Homo sapiens: one gene and its partners. The protein of the gene in region 6 purifies or fractionates together with the protein of the main gene of each other region. This does not show direct contact. Each region holds a gene or a part of one and is shown on either strand. Other genes may lie near its edges. The genes, in order: DCTPP1, FNDC3A, THUMPD3, EIF3CL, MRPL19, MFSD6 and ITIH3.

Region 1 (3,916 bases), on a different chromosome or scaffold from region 6:
CTCAAAAAAAAAAAAAACCCAACGAAAAAGGTCCAGGTGCGGTGGCTCACACCTGTAATCCCAGCACTTTGGGAGGCCGAGGCAGGCAGATCACCTGAGGTCAGGAGTTCAAGACCAGCCTGGCCAACATGGTGAAACCCTGTCTCTACTAAAAAATACAACCATTAGCTGGGCATGGTGGCACACCCCTGTAGTCCCAGCTACTCGTGAGGCTGAGGCAGGAGAATTGCTTGAACCCTGGAGGCAGAGGTTGCAGTAAGCCAAGATTGTGCCACTGCATTCCAGCCAGGGCGACAGAGCAAGACTCCGTCTCAAAAAACAAAACAAAACAAAACAAAAAAGACCAGCCTGGCCAACAGGCTGAAACCCTGTCTCTACTAAAAATACAAAAATTAGCCGGGTGTGGTCACAGGCGCCTATAATCACAGCTACTCAGGAGGCTGAGGCAGGAGAATCGCTTGAATCCGGGAGGCAGAGCTGGCAGTGAGCCAAGATCACGCCATTGCACTCCAGCTTAGGCAACAGCAAGACTCTGTCTCAAAAAAAAAAAAAAACCGGCCAGGTGCTGTGGCTCACACCTGTAATCCCAGCATTTTGGGAGACCAAGGCAGGCGGATCATGAGGTCAGGAGATCGAGACCATCCTGGCTGACACGGTGAAACCCCATCTCTACTAAAAATACAAAAAATTAGCTGGGTGTGGTGGCAGGCGCCTGTAGTCGCAGCTACTCAGGAGGCTGAGGCAGGAGAATGGCGTGAACCTGGGAGGCGGAGCTTGCAGTGAGCCAAGATCGTGCCACTGCACTCCAGCCTGGGCGACAGAGCAAGACTCTGTCAAAAACAAAAACGAACAAACAAAAAACACACAAGGTGACGAGCCAGGAGGTGACATCTAGGCTGAGCCCTGAATAACAGGAAGGAGCTAGCCCTGGGAATGATGGGGGATGGGGAAGCATTCAAGGCAGAGGGAGCAGTGAATGCAAAAGGCCTGTGACAGTCTGGCCTGTGTGCAAGGCAGAACAAGCCAAAGTGGCCTTAGGCGGGGAGTGAGAGTGGGGGGCAGTGGCATTGGAAAAGGCAGGCGTCAGCCCATGCAGGACAGGAGGGCTTTGTCAAGAGTTTAGATTGTATTCCAAGCACAGTTTGTATTTTAGCAGAGAAGGGGAAAAATACAATTTGTGGGGTCTCGTTTTGTTTTGTTTTGTTTAGTTTTTGAGACGGAGTTCTGCTCCTGTTACCAAGGCTGGAGTGTGATGGCGTCATGGCGGGTCACTGCAACCTCCGCCTCCCGGGTTCAAGCGATTCTTCTGCCCTCCTGCCTCAGCCTCCCAAGTAGCTGAGATTACAGGCATGCGCCACTATGCCTAACTAATTCGTATTTTCTGTAGAGATGGGGTTTCACCTTGTTGGCCAGGCTGGTCTCGGACTCCTGACCTCAGGTGATCTACCCACTTCACCCTCCCAAAGTGCTGGGATTACAGGCATGAGCCATGGCACCCAGCCAATTTTTTTTGTTTCATTTTGTTTTGTTTTGTTGTTTTTTTGAGACGGAGTCTTGCTCTGTTTCCCAGGCTGGAATGCTGTGGTGCGATCTCGGCTCACTGCAACCTCTGCCTCCTGGGTTCAAGAATTTCTCTGCCTCAGCCTCCTGAGTACCTGGGATTATAGGTGCCCACCACCATGCCCAGCTAATTTTTTTGTATATTTAGTAGAGACGGGGTTTCACCATCTTGGCCAGGCTGGTCTTGAACTCCTGACCTCATGATCCACCCGCTTCAGCCTCCCCAAGTGCTGGGATTATAGGCGTGAGCCACTGCGCCAAGCCTGATTTGTGCTTTTAAAAGATGGTGTGGGCCGGGTGCGGTGGCTCATGCCTGTAATCCCAGCACTTTGAGAGGCCGAGGAGGGCGGCTCACCTGAGGTCAGGAGTTCGAGACCAGCCTGGCCAATATGGCAAAACCCTGTCTCTACTAGAAAAACAAAATTAGCCGGGCATGGCGGCACATGCCTGTAATCCCAGCAACTCGGAAGACGGAGGCAGGAGAATCGCTTGAACCCGGGAGGCGGAGGTTGCAGTATCGCCCCATTGCACTCCACTCCAGCCTGGGCGACAGAGCGAGACTCCGTCTCAAAAAATAGAAAAGATGGTCTGGGCAGGAGTAGAAGATGAGCTAGCCAGGAGATGAGTGGGGAGGCTTCTGCAGTGGTCCAGGTCCGAGGTTTGGTCTGTGGTGGTGACGGCTAGGGCTGGAGAGAATTAGAATTGGGCCTCAAAGCTTTGTCTCAACAGATGAAACATTCTTTTGGCCACTCCTTGGCCCAGGGAGAGACACAGACATCTTGGTATCATCTGTCGGGGTCTCTTCCCCACCTGACTCTTCCCAGGGCCCAGATTGGTTAGGTCGTCCTTGGAGGTGGGTGTTATTACTGCAAGGACTGGCAGAGCCCATTGCCCCAGGTTACATCTGAGTGTGTGTCTGTCTGTGTTCTGCCCCTAGTCAGTGGAAAACCGATGGGGAACCTGGCCCCCAAGGCTGGTCCCCCAGGGAACGGGCAGCCCTTCAAGAGGAGCTTAGTGACGTCCTCATCTACCTGGTGGCATTAGCAGCCCGCTGCCGTGTGGATCTGCCGCTAGCAGTGCTCTCCAAAATGGACATCAACCGGCGACGCTACCCAGCCCATCTGGCCCGCAGCTCTTCCCGCAAGTATACAGAATTGCCCCATGGGGCCATCTCTGAAGACCAGGCTGTGGGGCCTGCGGACATTCCCTGTGACTCCACAGGCCAGACCTCAACCTAGAAAGATGGCCACAGGACTTGCAACTCAGGGTGGTGTCTGAAGAGCAGAGAGTGGCCTGGCCCTGGAGCCTTTTTCTAGTCTTTTCAGAATAGATCATGGGCCTGAGGCCTCCACTTCTTGAGGTCTGAGGCCCAGCAGCCTCTAGAAGGTAGCCTCCTGGTGTTTGTTCTCCCAGTAAAATGGTTTTGGGCGATAACTTCTAGATTATTCCTGGATGGCCAGGGAGGCTCTCTGTCTCAGCAGGTGATGACGGGGGTACCAGGGGTGCCTCTGAGACCCATTCTCGTGTTTCCCTGTTGTACCTTTTGCCTGCAGGGCAGAGAGATCTGGTTTCTAGCAAATTCCCAGTAGGATGTCATGTAAGTTCCTTCCCCCTCTTAGAGATTGAAGGCTGTAAGAGTCCAGATGGTGGAGCCAGGCTGTCTGGGTTCAAATGCCATCTTTGACACTTGCAAGCTAAATGACATTACTCAAATTAATCGTTCTGCACTTCAGCTTCCTTGTCTATCAAATAAAAAGAATAGTACCTGCCCAATAGGGTCGTGAGGTTTCAATGAGTTATGTGAATGCTCAGGGCGGGGCCTGGCACATAGTAAAGTACACTTGGTAAGTTTTGCAGTTACTGTTATTACCTGTTTTCCTTTTTTTTTTTTTTTTGAGACAGAGTCCTGCTCTTGTAGGCCTGGCTGGAGTGCGGCGGTATGATCTCGGCTCTCTGCAACCTCTGCCTCCTGAGTTCAAGCGATTCTCATGCCTTAGCCTCCCAGTAGCGGGGATTACAGGTGCCCACCATCACGCCCAGCTTTTTTTTTTATTGTTTTGAGACGGAGTCTCACTCTTTCGCCCAGGCTGGAGTGCAGTGGTGTGATCTCGGCTCACTGCAAGCTCCACCTCCCGGGTTCACACCATTCTCCTGCCTCAGCCTCCCGAGTAGCTGGGACTACAGGTGCCCGCCACCACGCCCGGTTACTTTTTTGTATTTTTAGTAGAGATGGGGTTTCACCATGTTGGCCAGGCCGGTCTTGAACTTCTGACCTTAGGTGATCTGCCCACTTTGGCTTCCCAAAGTGCTGGGATTACAGGCCTGAGCCACCGTGCCCAGTCGTTTGCCTTTTTAT
Region 2 (4,242 bases), on a different chromosome or scaffold from region 6:
TTATTTGAAGTCCGCTAGGCAATGCTAAAAACAAAACAAAAAAAACAAAAGCAAACAAAAAAAAACCAGAAACACTAATCACTTAGTTATCTGGCTAATAAAATTGGAAATCATGTGCATATCCCTACACCATTCTCAAAGACACGATCTAGATTCATTTTCATTCAAAAATGCACCAACAATGTTTCAAAAAAAAAACGTTTTTGGTTACTTCATCAAATTGTATTTTAAAAATACTGGCAGATTATAAAATACACAAGCCTTGGATGTCATGAACATCTTAAAAAATGCAAATGTTTTAAAACAGCGCAAATATTACTAAAAATTGATAAAGTATAAATTAAATGCTCTTTGCCTAAAACTACAAAAGACAATGAGAATATGAATCATGCATTCCCTCTTTTTTTCGGGGGGTTAAGGATGTCTCAGCCCTTAGCTATGTCTGGCTGGTCAGGGAAGAGGGAGAAATTTTTAAATTAGTAATAAAATATGCTTACTATTATATTGTAGAAATGTGACTAGTAAAGAGTAATCATTACATGTGTGTTAAAATAAATCAGGTCTCAATTACTCACACAGATAGAGGAAGTGAAGACACAGACGTCACCAAAAGAAGATAATCCTAGAATGTTTTTTTTAATGCTTATTATTAATTTGGGATAAATTAATTACCCTTATAACTATGCTTGACAGTGTTAACCAGGATTTTATTTTTCCGGAGCATTCAATGATTTGGAGGATTCAGACAAAAGGGAAAAAGAGGGAGTTAATTCAGAAGCATACAGGTGGCTAACGGTAGCCAGCCTGGGATAAAAAATTTTCCAGTTAACCTACACATAGAAAACTAACAGATGATCTATGAAATGAAACAAGACAATATAGTAAAATTTAATGTAGTAGTGCTAAAAAATTTAAATATAAGATTTAATATTAAAATTTTAACAAGATGTTTCTCCTGTCATCATCCCTTCTTCCCACTAACTGGTGTGATTAGAAAGCAAGATTAGTAGGCTACAAAGCTAAAAGCAACATTTCAGGTTATATTTCATAAAAGATGTGGTAAAAATCCTTCATCACTGTTTTCTGTTGGGCCACCATCTGTCTCAGTGAGTACTTCATCTCATTACTTAAGAAAAATTAATTCAACCAAGAAAATATCCAAAAGACAGGGGATTCAACTCACTTGAACATTTGTGGGTGACACAAGATGACAAGAGTTAGTAAATACGCAAAAACTAAATATTTATCCAAACATAAGATCAGAACCACAAAACTCAATTCGTTTCTGCCTAACATATGGCTCAAACTCCTGAGTGGCGTATGTTTAGTACTGGAGCTGGTAACAGCATGGTGATAAAATATTATAGTAAGAGTTCAACTGTTATTTCATTCCTACAATACAGAAGCATACACACTTTGGTTTCAAGAACTAAAAAACACAGACCACAGTAAGAAGCAAAATAATTACGTTGTTCGGTTTTAAAAACCCATAGTGAACACATAATGATTATACCGCAAAAAGAAAAAAAAAATCTCATCAGCCTGCGACTCTTATTTAATAGATGGTCAGACACAAAGGTGTCCAAAGGAACTTACGTAAAATCTCACAAAAGAAAATCTCGAATTCACAATCTCTAGCACCCCCAGCAAATCATCGCATTCCACCCTCTAAAATATCCCAAGGCTTGTAACGCTAACAGTTGAATAAAAGAACAATTAACGACCACATCCATTAAAACAGTCCCTCTTCTGCTCGCAATCTGACAGCGAAATTATCTGTTCATTTTCCTTTACCTAACACATGACGTCGTTTCCAAAGCCGTGTCAAAAGTTCGAAGATCCAGGTTGTTAAAACCGGGCGAGGACTGCAGCCTCGAGTCCACCTCCCGACTGAACAGGTGGTTAACTCGCCCGGGGAGAGGAACTGCCAGGTACTGGAAGCAGCCACGCAGGATCAAACAGAGGGCGGGTTTTCGAGGTTTTAACCCCAAGATGAGCGGGGAAAACTCTCTTCAGAAAAGCGTTCAAGTTCGGCGGCTGCCGGGCGGCCAAAGCCGAAGGCGCCGCGGGTGCTGGGCGATCCTCTCAGGAGGATTCCGCCCCAGCCCCCGCCCCCGCCCCCGCCCCCGAGCCCTCCGGAGCTACGCGGCTCGCCGCGGGGAGGAGGCGGGGGACAGAGAGAAGGGCCGCCCGCGCACCAGCGCCACCTCCCTCGGGCTAGATGCCGCCTCCTCTTGGGCTGGATGGCGCCCCCGGCCGCGCCCCCGCAAGCGTGTCCTGGCTAGGCTCGGCCCCGGCAGGTGCCCGACTAGTAGACCGGTCCTGTCCCCGGCCCCACTGCCCCTCTGCACCTCTGCCCACAGCGCGCCCACAGAAGGGGGTGGTCCGCGCCCCTCGACGGGGCCGAGCCCTGGAGAGTGCCCCGGCCCTCAGTCCCAGCCTAACGGTTTCCGCGGCGCCTCCTCCGGGGCGGGACGGGGTTGGGACGGCTCGGTGTCCCCCGCCTTTCGCGGAGGGAGTGCCCGCGCTCTCACCTCCGAGTCACGCCGTTCTGAGGCAGAAGGCGGCTCCTCTGGCGCCTCTTCTTAGGGTTCCTGATCGTTGTCTCTCTACCTCAGCTGCAGAGTCAGCTCTCAGGGCCGCCGCGGCCGCCGGCGCGCTGACTGTTGGGGTTGTTTCCTGGCAGTGACGCCGCCGCCTCAGCCCCGCTCTTCGCTCCCTCTCCGCGTAGCTCCCGCTTTCTGTTTCACCCGAGGGACCACGAACGCCGCCGCCGCCATGCTTACTACGGAGCCGGGAGGAGGAGCCCGAAGTCGGCGCGCCGAGTGCGGCTGCGCGGGCCCCGCCGACGGAGCCCGCGGCCGGGACCCCGAACCCCCGCCTCGAGCCCGCCGCGCCGGGGCTCTCTCACCGGAACGCGAGTCCCCGCGGGGCCACCGGCGCGTGGCGGCTGAGCGGCCGCGTTTGGCTCCCGGAGCGCCCACACCCTCTCGGGCTTCCGGCTTTCTCCCGAGGCCCGGCTGCGCCTGGCTTGTGGTAGCATCCGCTGTGGCCAGGCTCGGAGCTACACTCAGGAAAAGTGGAGTTAATGGAGGTTCCTAGAGACACTCACACAATTCTCAATCCACATTTCAAAAGGCTCCCCTGAGACGCACCCTGTCGGCCCCTTTCCGAAAGCACGCGAACTTAAGGCTGGCAGGTGCTTTAAAAGACACTCCTCCCAAGGACTAGGAAGCCTCTGAAATGGGCTTGGAAGTTTCTAATCCCAAAGACTTCGAACCCAGGATCTGGATAGCAAGCAAAAATATTTAGATATTTACTCAGTTGAAAACGTGGGGGGTGGCTTCGTGGTCTCTTCGCCAGCCAAATCGCGTGGAAAACCACGACCTCAATTTTTACAACAGCACGAAGACTTACAAGTGAGCGTAGCAGCGACTTCCTGGAACCTCAAACAATGTGGGACGCTGCAATAATGCCTGAGGGCTTTTGACTTACAGTTGCCGCCGGAGACCTGGGGAGGGGGTAGTACTTGGGCCGGTGAGTCCAGCCTCAGGAACTGTCCTTTCAAAAATGGTGATGGATGTAACAAGTTGCATGTCTGGGCTTTATTTCAGTGTATTAATTGTGCGATCTTTTAAAATAGCTGTATTTTTAAAACTGTTTTACAGAAATCTCTTTAAAATGTGATTATTCTCTATATTCTTAAAGAATACAATGGCTAATTAAATCCTTTGTTGATAACTGACTCTCAAACCGATATCTTGGCCATACGTTTAAGTCCCAGAGGATTGCTGCGGTGTATAGAATCCCTACTTTGGTGCTCTCTTTTTTTCCCTCTTTGGAATGTTCTCATCACCTCTTCTAAAATCCTTCACTGCTTTTCATCTCCTCATCTGCCTCTATCCACTCTGATCCTTCCTCTTATTCTTTCTGCTTTACTGTTTATTTTTCATTCTTCTCTCCTTTCTCGGCTGGTTTTCTCTGCGGCTCCAGGTGAAGATTGATGGGATGTTTATGTCCACAGCCAGCTAATGAGAGGTTTCTTTTCTTCTGGTTGTAAATAGGGCAGTGGTATCTTGAGATATTTTCATTGCTCTTCACTATCAGAAGTTCTTTCCCTGTGAGAGATGTTTCCTTTTCTTAACTTTTGGATTTGGCCCTCTTCGAGACAGCTGGCAAGTTGATCTTGGAATAATTGAAGTATAACTGTATATTGTTTCAAAGTATGAGGATTTTATCAGA
Region 3 (3,500 bases), on a different chromosome or scaffold from region 6:
AATGGGCTAGAAAGTGAATTACAGGTAATTTAAAAATGAACCTCCCATGATGGTCAGGATTCCAAATGTAGTTAATACATTCCTGAGTTCTCGGAAGAAACATAATGGGTGAATCCATCATGTTGTTAAGTGAAAAACAGCTCTGCTAAGTCTGCTAAAATTCAAGATTTTTTTCCTGACTTAGAATAAACGCAAGGAAAATAATGACATATTTAGAAGACAAGCAGGTACTAGTATTTCTCACCTTTTTCCAAATGGCAAATCTGTTACAATAATATCCACAGAGCCAGTTCTCAATGGCAGATTGCAGATATCCCACTGAACAGCATCTATGGGCAAGCCCCAGGAGGGTTTGCTGTGGGGACAAAGGAAAGGTGCTTCAACATACTGTGAAGCATAAAGTTATTACAACAATTTTTGTTTCTGAAGAGAGACTGCTACAGCAAAACATAAACTGCTAAGGATATCAGTGATAATATCAACCTATTCAAAATTTAAGAAATGGCACAAAGGTAAAAAATAGGTCAGGCTGGGCATGGTAGCTTGTGCCTATAATCAGCACTTTCAGGGGCTGAGGTGGGAGGATCACTGGACTCCAGGAATTTGAGACCAGCTGAGCAACACTGTGAGACCTTGTCTCTAAAATACTTTTTTAAGAAGTTAGCAGGGCATGATGGCACACACCTATAGTCCCAGCTACTCAGGAGGCTGAGGTGGGAGGATCACTTGAGTCCAGGAGTTGAAAGATGCAGTGAGCTAGGATTGTGCCGCTTTACTCCAGCCTGGGTGACAGAGCAAGACCCCCGTCTCAGAAAAAAGGGAAACAAACTGAAAACATGATTGTAATGCAGAGAACTGCAAAAGACAACTTTAAAAACAATGCTGAAGCAGTAAATTACATAACCGATGATACAAAAATTTAAGTTGCTGATAAAACATACACTGGAGAAAAACAATACTAAAGAATAGATAATGGGGTGATGTATCTGAAGAATAAAGTTTGTAAAACTAGTAATAACAGGAGGCCTAAAAGAAAAACAGATAGTAAAATTGGCAAATATATAGGTAATTGTTTCAAGATGAAAAACCAAAAGGAAAATATGTGCCATGCTATATAAAACAAGACTAAGAAAAAAGTTAAGATAAAAAATATAGATGACAGAAGACAGAATGAATAATAATAAATACAAAGGATTTAAATCCTCCTCATTAAGGCAAAGCAACTGGTTTAAGAAACAAAATAATGCACAGGCTAAGAACTGAAGATAAGTCAAAGGTTATCAGCAGAAATTAAGGATTTAATTGACATTTAATGAAGAATTTAAGAAAAAAATGCAATAAAAGCAATCATTACATAATTTTTAAAAGTACACATAAAATATGTATTATAACCGCATACCAATAACTGCACAAAACAAAAGGCAAAAAATATTAAAAACCAAAGTAAAATGGATAGAAATGTACAGGTTGAGGCCGGGCACAGTGGCTCATGCCTGTAATCCCAGCACTTTGGGAGGCCAAGGTGGGCAGATCATGAGGTCAGGAGATTGAGACCATCCTGGCTAACATGGTGAAAACCCGTCTCTACTAAAAATACAAAAAAAAAATAAGCCGGGCATGGTGGCGGGTGCCTGTAGTCCCAGCTACTTGGGAGGCTGAGGCAGGAGAATGGCGTGAACCCGGGAGGCGGAGCTTGCAGTGAGCCGAGATCAAGCCACTGCACTCCAGCCTGGGCGACAGAGTGAGACTCCGTCTCAAAAAAAAAAAAAAAAAAAAAAAAAAAAAAAAAAAAAAAAAGTACGGGTTGAACAGACAGTGTAGGTACAAACAAGATAAAATATTCAGAAGCTAGAAAGGTACGTTTGTTTAAATGTTTATCAGTTTTAATTAAAAAAAAAAAAGACTGGCCATATACTAGGCTCATTAAAAAAAACCCTCAATAAATATGAAACAACCATTCAAAATTAATTCATCACAATAAATCAGTATTTAAGAAAATTGAAGCCTTCCAACTACTTGTCTTAATACACGTAAAAGGATTTAATGTTGATACATAGACCAGCAGCATCAGCATTGTCCTGGAGTTTCCTGGAAAATGCAGACTCTTAGGTCCCATCCCAAACTACTAAATCAGATCTGTGTTAACAGTACTCCTAGGTGATTCACATGTACATTAATGTTTGAGAAGCACTGTCCTAAAAAATTAGATCAGAGAGACAATGAAATATATAACCAATGACTTAGTAATAAAATAGAGGCGAGGCTATATAAACTGCAGTATTTCTATACGATGGAATTTATGTAGTGACTTTAAAGACTATGGTCCAGGTGTGGTGACTCGTCTCTAATCCCAGCAATTTGGAAGGCTGAAGCGGCAGAATCTCTTGAGGCCAGGAGTTTGACACCAGCCTGGACAAAACAGCAAGACCCCCATCTCTACGAAGATTTTAAAAAATTAGCTGGGCATGGTGGCACATGCCTGTATTCCTAGCTACTAGGGAGGCCAAGGCAGGAGGATTGCTTGAGCTCAGTAGGTTGAGGCTACAGTGAGCCATGATCATGTCACTGCACTCCAGCCTGGGTGACAAAATGAGACCCTGTACCCAAAGCAAAAAAGAAGCCTATGTAAAAATATACTGTTTAAAATTTTGTGAAATTAAAATGAGTCTATAAAATATTCTTCCAATATGTAGGGGAAAAGACATATGAATAAGACAAATGAAAAATTGCATATGGTGGGGAAATTATCGCTAAAATAATATTTTAAAAATATAACTTATTTTCAATAAACTTTAAAAATGTAAATGGAGTCTCATAGTATATTCATTTTGGTTACAATGACGTCACAATGCACTGGGAGTTTTAATTCATAAAGTCAATATAAAAAGTGATTCTCTAACTCTAAAAGATGCTAAGAAATCTTTTAAATTTTTACCCTTCTTTAATTTGGCTCTTGGTCAATAAAGATGCAATGTTATTTGCTGCTCTATTCACAGCCAGTGGATTATTATCACCAGCAATATGGAAACAGTCAGACCATTCAGTGGCCCCCTAAAAGATAAGAGTGTATGTTAAAACAAAAGTAGCAAACTGTAAAATATGATTAAATTGTCAACAAACAAAGAAAATCCAGTGCTTTTCTAGAGTGGCAAAACATTGCATGTTGTCAACTGTGCTATTTCCCTGGCTGAAAATGCCCTCTTATTCTTTCTCTGCTTGCTGAACCTCTACCCATCTCTTAAGACCCAGCTCAAACCTCATGCCCTTTCAACATCAACCTTAACTCTCCAAGCAGTCTTATGTGCCCCTCCCAAAAACACTTTGTATGTACGTACCTCTGCCACTGCACTTGTCCCACGGTTAATTATTTCTTCCCCTTTATGCCTCTCAACTAACCTGGGAGCTCTCTGAGGTCAGGTCTAGTATTTTATTCAGTTCCTCATCCAGCAGTGTCTGGCACACTAAATTCTAAGTTAATGCGGTTTGAAAATATTTGAGAT
Region 4 (3,500 bases), on a different chromosome or scaffold from region 6:
AGCCTCATGAGTAGCTGGGACTACAGGCGCAGGCCACCACACCGGGCTAATTTTTTTGTATTTTTAGTAGAGATGGGGTTTCGCCATGTTGGCCAGGCTGGTCTCGAACTCCTGACCTTGTGATTTGCCTGCCTCCGCCTCCCAAAGTGCTGGGATTACAGGCGTGAGCCACCACGCCCAGCCAAGAAACACTCTTAATCATACAGCATGGCAGAGTTAAAAATAAAAGGACAGGAAACGTCCTTTTCATAAACATCCTTTATCAGGTAGAGGGAAGCTCCCTTCTATTCCTAGCTTCAGTCTTTTATCATGAAAGAATATTAGGATTTTTTTCAAATGCTTTTTTTTGCATCTGCTGAGATGACTCTACGGCTTTTGTCTGTTATTCTATTGATATAGTATATTAGTTGATTTTCATATTAAAACATCCTTCTATTATTGGGATAAATCCTCCTTGTTATTAAATTTTTTTTTAAAACTTTTTTGGGAGATGAGCCCACCCATCCTCCATCCCCCTACAGGCAAGGAGGGGGTGCTCCCATATAATCCTTATTGTATGTTGCTGTGTTTGGTTTTCTACTATGTTGTTAAGAACTTTTGAGTCTGTATTTATAAAAGTATAGCTTTATAGTCTTAGAGTTTTTTTTGTTTTGTTTCGTTTTCTGAGACAGAGTCTTGCTCTGTCGCCCAGACTGGAGTGCAGTGGCACGATCTCGGCTCACTGCAACCTCTGCCTCCCAGTTCAAGCGATTCTCCTGCCTCAGCTTTCCGAGTAGCTGGGACTACAGGCGCCTGCCACCATGTCTGGCTAATTTTTTGTATTTTTAGTAGAGACTGGGTTTCACTGTGTTAGCCAGGATGGTCTCGATCTCCTGACTTCGTGATCTGCCCGCCTCGGCCTCCCAAAGTGCTGGGATTACAGGCGTAAGCCACCGTGCCCAGCCTTGATGTCTTAAGTTTAATTTTAGGCCCCATTTGCTCCCTCAGACAGGAGCCTTTGTGTAACACACATGTGCAGTGCACATCACACACCGGAGTCCACACAATGGGAGACTTCAATACACAATTATTCAAAGACAAAAACACAAAGTACAGTAGATATAAAAGACCTGAACCAATAGTAACGCTGATAGTTCTGTAAGATGTCAACAGGTTAAAAAAACGAGTTTCATGATCAAGCAAGTTTTTGAGATGGTTAATAAAACAAAGTTAGGTATATTTATTCTCATGGAACTTTCCAGAGGTGGTTGTAAACCCTCCAAGAAGGGGTGTGATAGACAATGTGGCCCAGACCTTGACCAGTGTTCCCTGAAGCACTGGACAAAAAAGGCCTTCTCAACAAAATGCCCACCAAGTAAGTTGTTCAGCCTCTCTAGACCTCTAGAGGGCTGGAAACTCACTACCTCCCTAAAGCAGCACGACCACAACTTTTAAACACAGGAAAGCAACCTTGAGAGCAATAATCTTCCCATTAAAAGGGTACTATTTGTCTGGGTGCAGTGGCTCACGCCTATAACCCCAGCACTTTGGGAGGCTGAGGCGGGAGGATCGCTTAAGCCCAGGAGTTCAAGATCAGCATGGGTAACATGGTGAAATCTTGTCTGTATTAAAAACACAAGAATTAGCCGGATGTACTGGAGTGTACCTGTAGTCCCAGCTACCCAGGAGCCTGAGGTGGGAAGATCACCTGAGCCCAAGAGGTTGTGGTTGCAGTGAGCCAAGATTGCATCACTACACTCCAGCCTGGGAAGAGTGAGACCCTGTCTCAAAAAAAGCACTTTTTATCTGTAGTTTGTGCAAACTGGCTAAGAAAAAATAAATAAAAGCACTATTTTTAGTGAGCTTGAGATTTCACTCCCATGGGATACAAAAGAGCAGGTATCACTTTTACTTCAAAGGGAGAAACTAAGACTTAAGGTCAAGTAACTTATACAATGTTGTACAGCTGATAAAGGCTGGGAGACAGAATCCACACTGGGATCCTCCCCTATTCTGACTGTCCCAGTAAAGGTCATGAACACTTGCGGCAGTCTGTATGCTGTATGTGTACTAAGAAGTTATCAGGAAGGGTAACACAGTAGCAACGCACACTGAGGGCTCACCACACGTCAGTCCTAGATGAACTACTTTCTTACATCACACCTCCCTGTATTCCTGCAGCTATTCTGGAAGGGAGGGTTCCCTGCCTTATTTTACAGATGAGAAAACTGAAGATTAGACAGGCTAAGTAGTTTGTCCAATGTCACACAGGTATCGGGTGCCAAAGTGAGATTTGCACCCAATCCACACGCAGTGAGTAAGGCTGTGGGTAAATATTTGGACTCTGGAGCCTTCAATTCTCATCTTTAGGACACATTAGCTTCGTGACTTTAGCCAACTAATGTACTTGACTCTCTGATCCTACTGTAAAATGCTAACAGTTGGCTGCTCCAACCTAAAAGGACTCCATGGAAGAATCAATAACCTTCCAGACAATTAAGAGCTTTCCACCAGTTCCAGTGTAACCCTAGGTCCCACTACTTTCCTTACTTTTTAAGAAATCTTGAGGCCAGCGCGGTTTGTTTCCCTTCTTCCTCCTCTGAGTCGGAATCGGAAGATGTGGAACCTGTGTCCCAGTCTTCATCATCTTCGGAATCTTCTGAGTCCTCATCTTCATCCTTAGAGGGAAGAAAAGAGGATCAGCAAGAAGACAGGGAGATTGACTGGTGTCTCCTCCTTACTAACGCATGTTCGAGATTTATTTACATGAGTAGAACAAGAGCAGCTACTCATGGAATCAAGATACCAAGGGCTGGGACTCACCATCAAGTCCCAGAGTGATGCTGCAATTTGGCCGCAGGAACACACACAGCTTCCCCTGGCAGAGCTGGGCCCAGATCCCTGTTTGCCCACTGCTCTGATGTAAGAGGAAGCTTGTTCTCAACTCCACTAAATTCCACCCCTCCCAACCCTAGGGGTTTGAGTCTTGTCTTTTTCCCCCAGGGACTCAGGAACTACCTCTGGCAGGAAATCATCCATCTAACCCTGGCTCTTACATCCATCTTTTTGAGGAACTTGCGACTCTCCCCAGAAGGAGCTTCTGATTTCTTCTTCAAGAAAGTTGCAGCACTGACTCCGTCCTCATCCTCATCCTCATCTGAAGAGCCTAGTGGTAATGGAGGGAGAAAAAGATCCTGAATGTTGAAAAGCCAGACTGGAGGGCAGCCAAGAAACCAGGCGAAGGGCAACACTAACTCTGGACTTCCTATTTGCAACAAAGGTTCTTTGGCTCACCTTCTGAATCCTCCTCATTTTTCTCAGCATCTTCATCCGCAGACTGCTCGGGGTTCTGGACAGAGAGGGAAGTGAGAGAACAATCATGGACGCTGTCCAGCCATCAGCCCACCCCACCCCTCCACCCCAGACAGTTCTGTCATCTTCCTGCTCCAGTCACACCTCCCACTAGCAATTCCATCTTTGGGCCTCAGTCACGGGGTCACTGTTCCCAGTTCAGTAAGTGT
Region 5 (2,962 bases), about 110 Mb from region 6:
TTTATAACATCTAATATCTCATGAGAAACCATGAAGTCAGAAGGTAGTGGGATGACATATTTAAAGTGCTGAAAGAAAAATACTGTTACCAAAAATTCATGTATCTGGCAAAATTATCCATCAAAAATAAGGGAGAAATCAAGACATTCTCAGATAAAACAAAAGCTGAGGGAGTTTATTACAATTAGACTTGCCCTGCAAGAAATGCATAAGGGAATCCTTTGGGCCGAAATGGAAGGGCACTAGACAGTAACTCAAATCTATATAATGAAATAAGGATCCAAAATAAGATAAATATATTGACAAATATAAAAGTCAGTATTACTATCATACTGTTTTCTAACTCCACTTTTTATTTCCTAAATGATTTAAAAGACAAACTCATACAAATAACTATAAATTATTTATTAGGCAATTTGTGCCATCAATAACATAAGGGGGGCAGGGGCAGAGCTTTACAGGAGTAGAGATTTTGTATGCTATTGAAGGTAAATTGGTATCAGTTTAAATTAGATTGTTTTAAGTGTAGGATGTTAACTATAATCCCCATAGCAACCACAAATAAAACATCTAACAAATATACACAAAGGGGAGTGGAAAGAGAATCAGACTAGTTCACTACAAAAAAACAGAAAAGAAGGCCATAAAGAGGAAATGAGGGGCCAAAAAAGTATATGACATATAGAAGAAGTGTTAAATGGTAGAAGAAAGTCCTTCCTTAATTACTTTAAATGCAAATGGATTAAATTTTCCAATCAAAAGGCAGAAATTGGCAGAATGGACAGAAAAAACAAAACAAAACAAGATAGTGATATGCTGTCTACAAGAGACTATAGCTCCAAAGACACAAATACATGGAACACATAGAAAAAGATACTCTGTGCAAAAATTTTTTTAAAAAAAGAGAACCTTAACACATTGTAAACCACCTTGACCTAAGAGACATATAGAAAACTACAGTCAACAATAGCATGATAAATATTTTGCTCAAGTGTATGAGGAACATTCTCCAGGACAGACCATCTATCAGGCCACACACCAATTCTCAAAAACATTAAAATCATACTAAGTATCTTCTCTAATCACAATGGAATGAACTTGGAAATCAATAACAAAAAAACAGTGGGAAATTCATAAACATGTAGAAATTAACACACTCAACCAGGGGATCGAAGAAGAAATCACAAGAGAAATAAAACATGACATTATCTAGCAATTCTACTCAAGATGTATACCCAAAAGAACTTAGAAACAGGCAATCAAATACATACTTGTTATGTCAATGTTTACTGCAGCATTATTCACAATAGCCAAAAGGTAGACATATCCCAGTGTTCATCAGAAGATGGATGAACAAAATGTATATACATACAATGGAATATTATTTAGTCATAAAAACAAATGAAATTCTGACACATGCCACAACATGGATGAATCTTAAGGACTGCTTGAGGCCAGGAACTCAAGACCAGCATGGGAAACATAGCAAGACCACATCTCTACAAAAAACAAAATCAGCCAGGCGCAGTTAATGTGTGCCTATAGTCTTAGCTACTCAAGGAGGATTGCTTGAGCCCAGGATTTTGAGGCTGCAATGAGCTATGATCACACCACTGCACTCCTACCTGAGTGATAGAATGAGACCTTGTCTCAAAGATAAAAAGAAAGATTTGAGGTTACCTGGGGTTGGGAGAGATACAGGAATGAGGTTATTGCTCAACAGTTACAGAGTTTCAGTTTGGGGTGATGAGAAAATTTTGGAAATAGTAGTAATAATTTCACAACATTGTGATGTAATTAATGCCTCTGACTTGTAAATTTAAAATGTTTACAATGGCAAATTATGTTTTATATATATATCCTACCACAATAAAAAAAAAAAGCTTTAGATTATGCACATTTAATTTTATTTCTGGGGGAAGATTTGCTTTACTTCTGGGGAAAAATTCACAAGAATTTTAAAGATATTCCTACAGAGTAAAAAGCATGATTGTTTACATGTTTTTGAGCACCTGTACTTACAAGCTGATCATACATTTGCAGAGCTTTAGGTCCTAAAATATACTGTCCCATCTACCATTCTACCAAGATTGAAGTGTGTTTATCAAGACAGAAAAAGAACAGGTTTTAATAGCTATCTTCTAACAAGATAAAGAGAAGAAAAATATAAGATATAGGCTCTTGTTAACCTTTTATTTTGAGAGGTTCTTTTGAGAGGTTATCTCAGCAAATAATCTAAACAAGTGAAGGATAGGATATCTATTACTTGTTGACAGTAGTTAGATGACTATATAATCATTAGTGAAAAAGATCAAGGAAGTAGCTGAAAGCTGCTGTCTGACAGACCCCTAGACAATCTCCTTCCTGGACAGACCCCTCCAGGAAGGAGATTGGAAGCCTCTATTCTAGGGAATCTGACAAAACCAAAATATTCATGTGGAGGAGGGGACTCCCAAAAAAGCCCATTCAGATAATCCTAAAGACAGCCCCTTCCCACAACCCAAAGGCTTTCCAAGCTTTTTAGTCCCTCTTTCAACCATAAGAAGACAGCCAAAGATTATCAGATATCCTGGAAAAGTCTGAAATATAGACAACAAAAAATAAATACAGAAAGAAATTTGGAGGAAATAGATGCGCAAACAATTTTAAATGAAAAAAAAATACACTATATTGAATACCCCTTATCTGTGAACAAATCCATAGATAAAGGCTTTTTGGTTGTAAGAAAAGGAACTTCTACAAATCAAGAAGGGGTCTTAAGATTTTAAAATACAATAGCAAAGAGTTGGAAGATTGAGCTAAAGAGCTAAAAAACAGAGACTGGGGTCAAGGGAGGGAGGTAAGAAAATAGATACCCAGTGCTGGATATCCAACATCCAAATAATAGTTGGGAGAACAAAGCAGCAGAGAATAAATCATCAACCAATGCTAAGTGTTTCCCAGAACTGACAGAAATGAGTTA
Region 6 (3,500 bases):
CTTAATAATGGACCTTCTGAATTCTTTTTCAGGGAAGTCAGAGATTTCTTCTTGGTTTGGATCTATTGCTGGTGCTAGTGTGATTTTGTTGGGGCAGGTTAAAGAACCTTGTTTTGTCATATTACTAGAATTGTTGTTCTGGTTCCTTCTCATTTGGGTAGGCTATGGCAGAGGGAAGGGCTGGCACTCAAGGCTGCTGTTCAATTCTTTTGTCCCACAGGGTGTTCCCTTGATGTAGTACTCTCCCTGTTTTCTGAGGGATGTGGCTTCCTGACAGCCAGGCTGTAGTGATTGTCATTTCTCTTCTGGATCTAGCCCACCCAGCAGGGCTACCAGGCTCCAGGCTGGTACTGGGGTTGTCTGCATAGAGTCCTGTGATGTGAACCATCTTTAGGTCTCTCAGCTGGATACCAGCCCAATATTTGGCCTGTCTCTCAGGTCCTCCAGGAGCAATATGCTTCCTTCAGAGGGTCTGTGTATTCTCTCAGCTTTCCTGGTATATTCCTGCAGTAGTTCTGGAGCAAAAGCATGATGCAAGTCTCCACATGCTACTCGGTCCACCTGAGTGTGAGCTGCAACCTAATCCTGCCTCCTATCTTGCCATTTTCCCAATAACAGTCTCTCCAGAACACAAGTATTTTAAAAACTAACCCAGTACCATATTCTCACTAATCAAAGATGAGTTAAAATTTGATTGCTTATTTTTATGTTTCTTACATTGAATGTTTAATTAATGATTTTAAATTTTTTTGTGATTAATAGCAAAGATATTCAAGTCCATACATTTTTCTCAAAATACAACTTTAACTACATCTTATAACTTTGGGAGAGCCATGATAGTTATTTTTATTGGTCTTTTACATGAGGCATGGACTGAGGCTGTGTAAGAGAGAGAATCCATTTAGGATTATAAAAGAACAAAAGTAAGAAAAAACAGTATTGCTCTTTCTGAGTAACTCATTGAGATTAAAATCTGTCTCTGAGGCTTCTGTAACAAGCAAGTTTTTCTCTTCACAGAAGCATTTCAGGGGCCTGAGGCTAATGCTCCGCAAAGGATAGGACACCCAAAGAAGATGAGCTCTGTTCTGGGACCAAAAAACTGAGCAAAAATATTTTCATCCTCCTGGTTGACCTTTTTCATAAAAAGTTGAGTCAGCTCATTCTCATCTACATATTAATATTTGATATAACCTCCTTTTGGTAGAACAATCTTAATAAAGGCATCCCTGGTTCAGAGAAAACTTCAGATTTCAGGTCTTGACATTTTTGTCTTTGTTTTTTGTTTTTTTTTTGAGAGGGAGTCTTGCTCGTTCCCCCAGGCTGGACTGCAGTGGTGCTATCTCGGCTCACTGCAAGCTCCACCTCCTGGGTTCACGCCATTCTCCTGCCTCAGCCTCCTGAGTAGCTGGGATTACAGGCGCCCACCACCGTGCCCGGCTAATTTTTTATATTTTTAGTAGAGATGGGGTTTCACCGTGTTAGCCAAGATGGTCTTGATCTCCTAACCTCGTGATCCACCCGCCTCGGCCTCCCAAAGTGTTGGGATTACAGGCGTGAGCCACTGCACCCGGCCATTGTTTTTTTTTTTTTTAACAAATGAAGGTAAGTCATAGAGAAGATTACCACTCACTCCCTATCCCTAGTAGCAAAATGACTGTATAGCCTTATATGTATTTGACTTAAATTTGAAAAACCTTTAGAATACCAGAGAAATTGAAAACTAATACTTCCCTAGTACCTTGTATTATAAAAGAAAACAAACAAACAAAAAACAAGAAAACCCCAAGCTACTTAAAACAATATTTTTTCTGCATAGTAGGTGGATCTCTTTAACAATAGTCCACATGAATTCATCGATACGCCACTCAGAAAATTGAGCCAAACAGACCTGTTGTATACTCTGTACCACTTCTAGGCTTCTCGGGGCATTTGTTGACTTCCCATGGCCTGAACTGTTAGGAATATTAAGAAAGAATGGAAATAATTACCTTCTTCCTCATCTGGCACTGCCAGCCACTGGATCAGGGCAAAGAGCAGTAGGATCACCAAGCAGGCCATGCCAATTCCTCGGAAGGTTGCAGCAGCCCCTATAAAAACAAACAGCACTCTATAGAGTAATTCCAAGAAATGCAGATAGCGCTCATCTAAAACCATCAGTTTTCTAAAGATCAAAGCAAAGGAAGCACAGCTTGAGACAAACCAGAGAAAAGTAGTTGGGTATTAGCTCCACATAATGGAAAAACACAGGGCTGGGTACGTGTCAAGAGACCCAGGGCTGATATTGGATCTGTCATTGATCGATTATAAAACTGCATTTATATAGGATTATCTCTCAGTGCCTTTCACCATGACTCATACAATTCAATGGTGCTCTCCTCTTCATATGAAAAGACCATTTACCCAATTATTAACTAACAGCACTATTAATCTGTAGTTGGAACAGCAGTGCTCAAATAGTGCTATAAATGCACGCATTTCCTGGGGCCCACCTTATATATTAATAGATGACTGAGTAGTTAAGATTCCTGGAGCAGAATAATCTCATTCCTATTTCAGCTCCTATGTTTCTAATAAGGAAGATATGACAAGACAGACAGATATTGTTACCATAAATGTAGTAGCATTACCAAAGCCAGCATATGGTTAGATTCTTCTGGTTCAAAATCTCCTAATGGAATAACAATGATGAATTTTATTTCCTTTAGGGTTATTATCAGCAGGTTTAAGGTACCTTATTTTAGACCAAAAGCACTCATGCTAATTCATTTGTTTGGCTCCTTTGAGGGATCTCTGTAGCATCTCATTAAGCTGATTGTCAGAGGAGTGTGCACAGTTACAGGCTGGCTCAGATCAGCTTAACAACGTAAGCACACTGCTTTACAATTATGACTACCATGAAATCTAGAAAGAGATTATGAATACTGGAATTTAGCTTTGGGCAATCTTCAGTAATAATTGGATTGTTTATTGAGGTATTGCTGGAAAAAATCATGTTTTAATAATAGAAAAGAAAAAAAAGGAGAAAGCCATTCTTACCAAAATAATTGACTAACACGCCTCCGATCATGGCACCACATCCTCTTCCCAAACCCAGGTGAAGGCCCTGCAGGATGCCCTGAGCAGATGTCCTCAGCTCAGGGGGAACGGCTGCACTGAGGTAAGAAATGCATGCTGCCCAGATGGCCGCGTGTGTCACTCCTGGAGAGGAAGAAGAGCAGGAGGGATTAGTTGGTTAGCATTTCTTAGGCTACTCTGTTTTGAAATGTGAATTATTTAACTAGGCACCTATTTTTAAGATTTGTTGTGGGAAAACATACATTAAAAATTTACCATTTTCACATTTTTAAATGTACGGTTCAGTGGCACTGAGTACACTCACAGTGTTGTGCAGCTGTCACCACCATCCATCTCCAGAACTTTTTCACCACCACAACAAAAATTCTGTACCCCTTAAACCATAACTTACACTCACCCCTTGTCCCATCCCCTGACAACCACCA
Region 7 (2,251 bases), on a different chromosome or scaffold from region 6:
TGAGTGGATACGTGGGTGAACAGATGGTTGAATGGTGAATGGGTGGGTGGGTGAGTGAATGGATGGATGGGTGGAGGGATGGGTGAATGGATGGTGGATAGATGGATGGATAGATGGAAGGGTGGCTGACATCCCCATTTAGATGTGGGCTGTATCTGCACTGGAGTATTATCTACTTCTAAAGGTCCTGATTGGAGCTCCTGAGCCGGGACCATTTACTTATCTTATGACTTTCCTGGATACTGAAATACATTCAACCCTTCCTGACTTCTCAGAGCCCCTTTCCTTCAGAGTCAGTTCTTTATTTTTTCCCCCAAGCTGTCATACATTTGAATCCCTAAAGTTCTAGTCCAACCAACTCTGTCTCTCAGCTGTGTCAGTGGAGAGGCCCAAGAAGTTGCCTTCCTGCTAGCCATCCCCTCTTTTGAGCTGCTGTGGGTCCCAGTTGCCTGTTCCCTGGAGCAGAGGCTCATGAAGGCATGTAGAGGCTGGCAGCTGTCTGGTCTCGACCTTGGACTTTATTTTCCCAGCCCCTCCCACAGGCCCCTCTCTGTGCCCATGTTCCAGATGCCATAAAATCCGGGCCATCCATCCCAACAGGAGCTGGTGTGTCTACTCAAAACAGGTTGGGGACAATGTAGTCAGTGTGGACACCATCAATCAGCCCTTCTCCGTTGTTGTGGACGAACCAGCAGACAACCTTCGTGCCGATGCTGGCATCCTTTCTGTAGTCTTTCTGGGAGCCCCTGGGGAAAGAAGAGAGATGCTGCAATACACGGGGTGGGTAAGATGGCTGCTAGGCTAGCGGACCTGAGATTGAAAAAGGGTGGGAAGTTGGCAATTCTAACAGCCCAGAATTCTTTGGTCAAGAATGAAGTTACATGATTACTCTTTCGAGGAAGCCAAGTTTGGGCTTTTTCTTGATTAGCAAGAGCCTGGGAGGGGCCAAGACCTCAAAGGGAAACAAGGGTACCCCACAGAAGACAAAAGCCCACCAGACTAATGTGCCTGGGCTGCAGGTGCTCTTTCCTCCTCTCGTTGCTGAGCAGGTGAGGGTGTGGGAGAAGTCTCCTCACCTGGTGACAATCAGCTGATGGTTCTTCACCACCAATGTGGCATCTGGCTTTGTGGGGTCAGAGCCTGGCCGGATGTCAGACACTTTAAAGTCAAAGGGTTGGAAGAATTGCCCTGGGAAGAAAAATATTCATGCTGTCAGCCCCTGGCCATTGCCACGGGTAACGTGGCCACTGGCCTTTCAGGGTTGATGCAAAGGCTGAATGGGGTGTTGTGAGCTGGGTACAGGGTGCCTAGGAAGGCCTTGTGTATGTCTTTCCCATGCTGCTCTCAGGCCTGAACAGCCTGCAGTCTGAACACTTCGTACCCAGCAGCCCATGCGTCTGTGCTGACATCCGGTGACTGTCCACCACGTAGAAGCCTAGAAAGTCACGGTGGACAGGATGTTTCTTCCACACCTGGTGTAGGACGACCACGAAGGTAACCCCATCTCCAAAGGAGACCACCATGTTCTTCCTGTTGATCATCATGGACAGCCTACGAGAGGAAGCCAGAAAGTGGCTGTGGGGCCCAGTGGCCGTGACACTGGGCATCTGACTCAAGGGCGTTTTGGTGGGGCCTCCCCTGTACATGGCACCCGAGGGCCCACAGACTCCAGAAACTATCTCAGGGGCGTTGGAAAGAGGATGCCTCATGCACACTGTCTCCCCTCCCGTGAGTGGATCCTTGAGTGTCTATAAGTGGGAAAGAGAGGGCTGGCCTATGAATCTGGAGGCCTGTGGTCCAGCCTCAGCTAAGCCACTGACTTCCTGAGTGACATTGGGCAGGCTCCACACCTTCTCTGAGCCTCAGTGGGAGGCTCTGGGGGATCTGAAGACAGGAGAGCTAAGAAGACAAGAGCAGCCACAGAAGAGGCAAATGGGGGCCATTATCACCTAATGCCTTCACCCAACCAGCTGAACTGTGCAGCTACCAATTCTGGCTCTGATAGGGCCCCAGGGTTTGGTTGGGGGCCACTATGGTCACCCTCCCCTGTGACAGGAGACTGGATTCTGGGGTCTCTGATCTTTCCTGTGACCCCCATGGATCTCCTGTCCTGGGATTTTTCTAAATCCCTCAAGAGCCTCCTTAGACTCTCACCCTGTAGTCCACCTTGGAGACCTTGTAGGGGAGCTTACCCATCCTGCGTGACTGTGACTGTGTCCAGCCAGCTGAAAGTGCTCGGCACGGCCCTGTT

Evidence for each region.
Region 1: the proteins of MFSD6 (region 6) and DCTPP1 purify together in Homo sapiens (affinity purification with mass spectrometry; one large-scale study listed by BioGRID and IntAct). This does not show direct contact.
Region 2: the proteins of MFSD6 (region 6) and FNDC3A purify together in Homo sapiens (affinity purification with mass spectrometry; one large-scale study listed by BioGRID and IntAct). This does not show direct contact.
Region 3: the proteins of MFSD6 (region 6) and THUMPD3 purify together in Homo sapiens (affinity purification with mass spectrometry; one large-scale study listed by BioGRID and IntAct). This does not show direct contact.
Region 4: the proteins of MFSD6 (region 6) and EIF3CL purify together in Homo sapiens (affinity purification with mass spectrometry; one large-scale study listed by BioGRID and IntAct). This does not show direct contact.
Region 5: the proteins of MFSD6 (region 6) and MRPL19 purify together in Homo sapiens (affinity purification with mass spectrometry; one large-scale study listed by BioGRID and IntAct). This does not show direct contact.
Region 7: the proteins of MFSD6 (region 6) and ITIH3 purify together in Homo sapiens (affinity purification with mass spectrometry; one large-scale study listed by BioGRID and IntAct). This does not show direct contact.

The regions. Positions count from the first base shown.
Region 1 is NC_000016.10:30,423,115-30,427,030, reverse strand, and holds the end of DCTPP1 (dCTP pyrophosphatase 1), read left to right. Parts: intron 1-2,497; coding exon 2,498-2,798; 3' UTR 2,799-3,416; downstream 3,417-3,916. UniProt on the Homo sapiens protein: Hydrolyzes deoxynucleoside triphosphates (dNTPs) to the corresponding nucleoside monophosphates. Has a strong preference for dCTP and its analogs including 5-iodo-dCTP and 5-methyl-dCTP for which it may even have a higher efficiency.
Region 2 is NC_000013.11:48,974,470-48,978,711, reverse strand, and holds the start of FNDC3A (fibronectin type-III domain-containing protein 3A), read right to left. Parts: upstream 2,801-4,242; 5' UTR 2,535-2,800; intron 2,051-2,534; exon of another isoform or gene 1,795-2,050; intron 1-1,794. UniProt on the Homo sapiens protein: Mediates spermatid-Sertoli adhesion during spermatogenesis.
Region 3 is NC_000003.12:9,380,054-9,383,553, reverse strand, and holds part of THUMPD3 (tRNA (guanine(6)-N(2))-methyltransferase THUMP3), read right to left. Parts: intron 3,052-3,500; coding exon 2,936-3,051; intron 356-2,935; coding exon 245-355; intron 1-244. UniProt on the Homo sapiens protein: Catalytic subunit of the THUMPD3-TRM112 methyltransferase complex, that specifically mediates the S-adenosyl-L-methionine-dependent N(2)-methylation of guanosine nucleotide at position 6 (m2G6) in tRNAs.
Region 4 is NC_000016.10:28,397,342-28,400,841, forward strand, and holds part of EIF3CL (eukaryotic translation initiation factor 3 subunit C-like protein), read right to left. Parts: intron 3,329-3,500; coding exon 3,274-3,328; intron 3,146-3,273; coding exon 3,036-3,145; intron 2,658-3,035; coding exon 2,530-2,657; intron 1-2,529. UniProt on the Homo sapiens protein: Component of the eukaryotic translation initiation factor 3 (eIF-3) complex, which is required for several steps in the initiation of protein synthesis.
Region 5 is NC_000002.12:75,656,783-75,659,744, reverse strand, and holds part of MRPL19 (large ribosomal subunit protein bL19m), read right to left. Parts: 3' UTR 1-2,962.
Region 6 is NC_000002.12:190,488,355-190,491,854, reverse strand, and holds part of MFSD6 (major facilitator superfamily domain-containing protein 6), read right to left. Parts: intron 3,199-3,500; coding exon 3,037-3,198; intron 2,088-3,036; coding exon 1,989-2,087; intron 1,242-1,988; exon of another isoform or gene 1,037-1,241; coding exon of another isoform or gene 1,018-1,036; intron 1-1,017.
Region 7 is NC_000003.12:52,807,047-52,809,297, reverse strand, and holds the end of ITIH3 (inter-alpha-trypsin inhibitor heavy chain H3 isoform 4 preproprotein), read right to left. Parts: coding exon 2,193-2,251; intron 1,713-2,192; exon of another isoform or gene 1,576-1,712; coding exon of another isoform or gene 1,552-1,575; coding exon 1,382-1,551; exon of another isoform or gene 1,349-1,381; intron 1,189-1,348; coding exon 1,077-1,188; intron 781-1,076; exon of another isoform or gene 747-780; coding exon 617-746; 3' UTR 501-616; downstream 1-500. UniProt on the Homo sapiens protein: May act as a carrier of hyaluronan in serum or as a binding protein between hyaluronan and other matrix protein, including those on cell surfaces in tissues to regulate the localization, synthesis and degradation of hyaluronan which are essential to cells undergoing biological processes.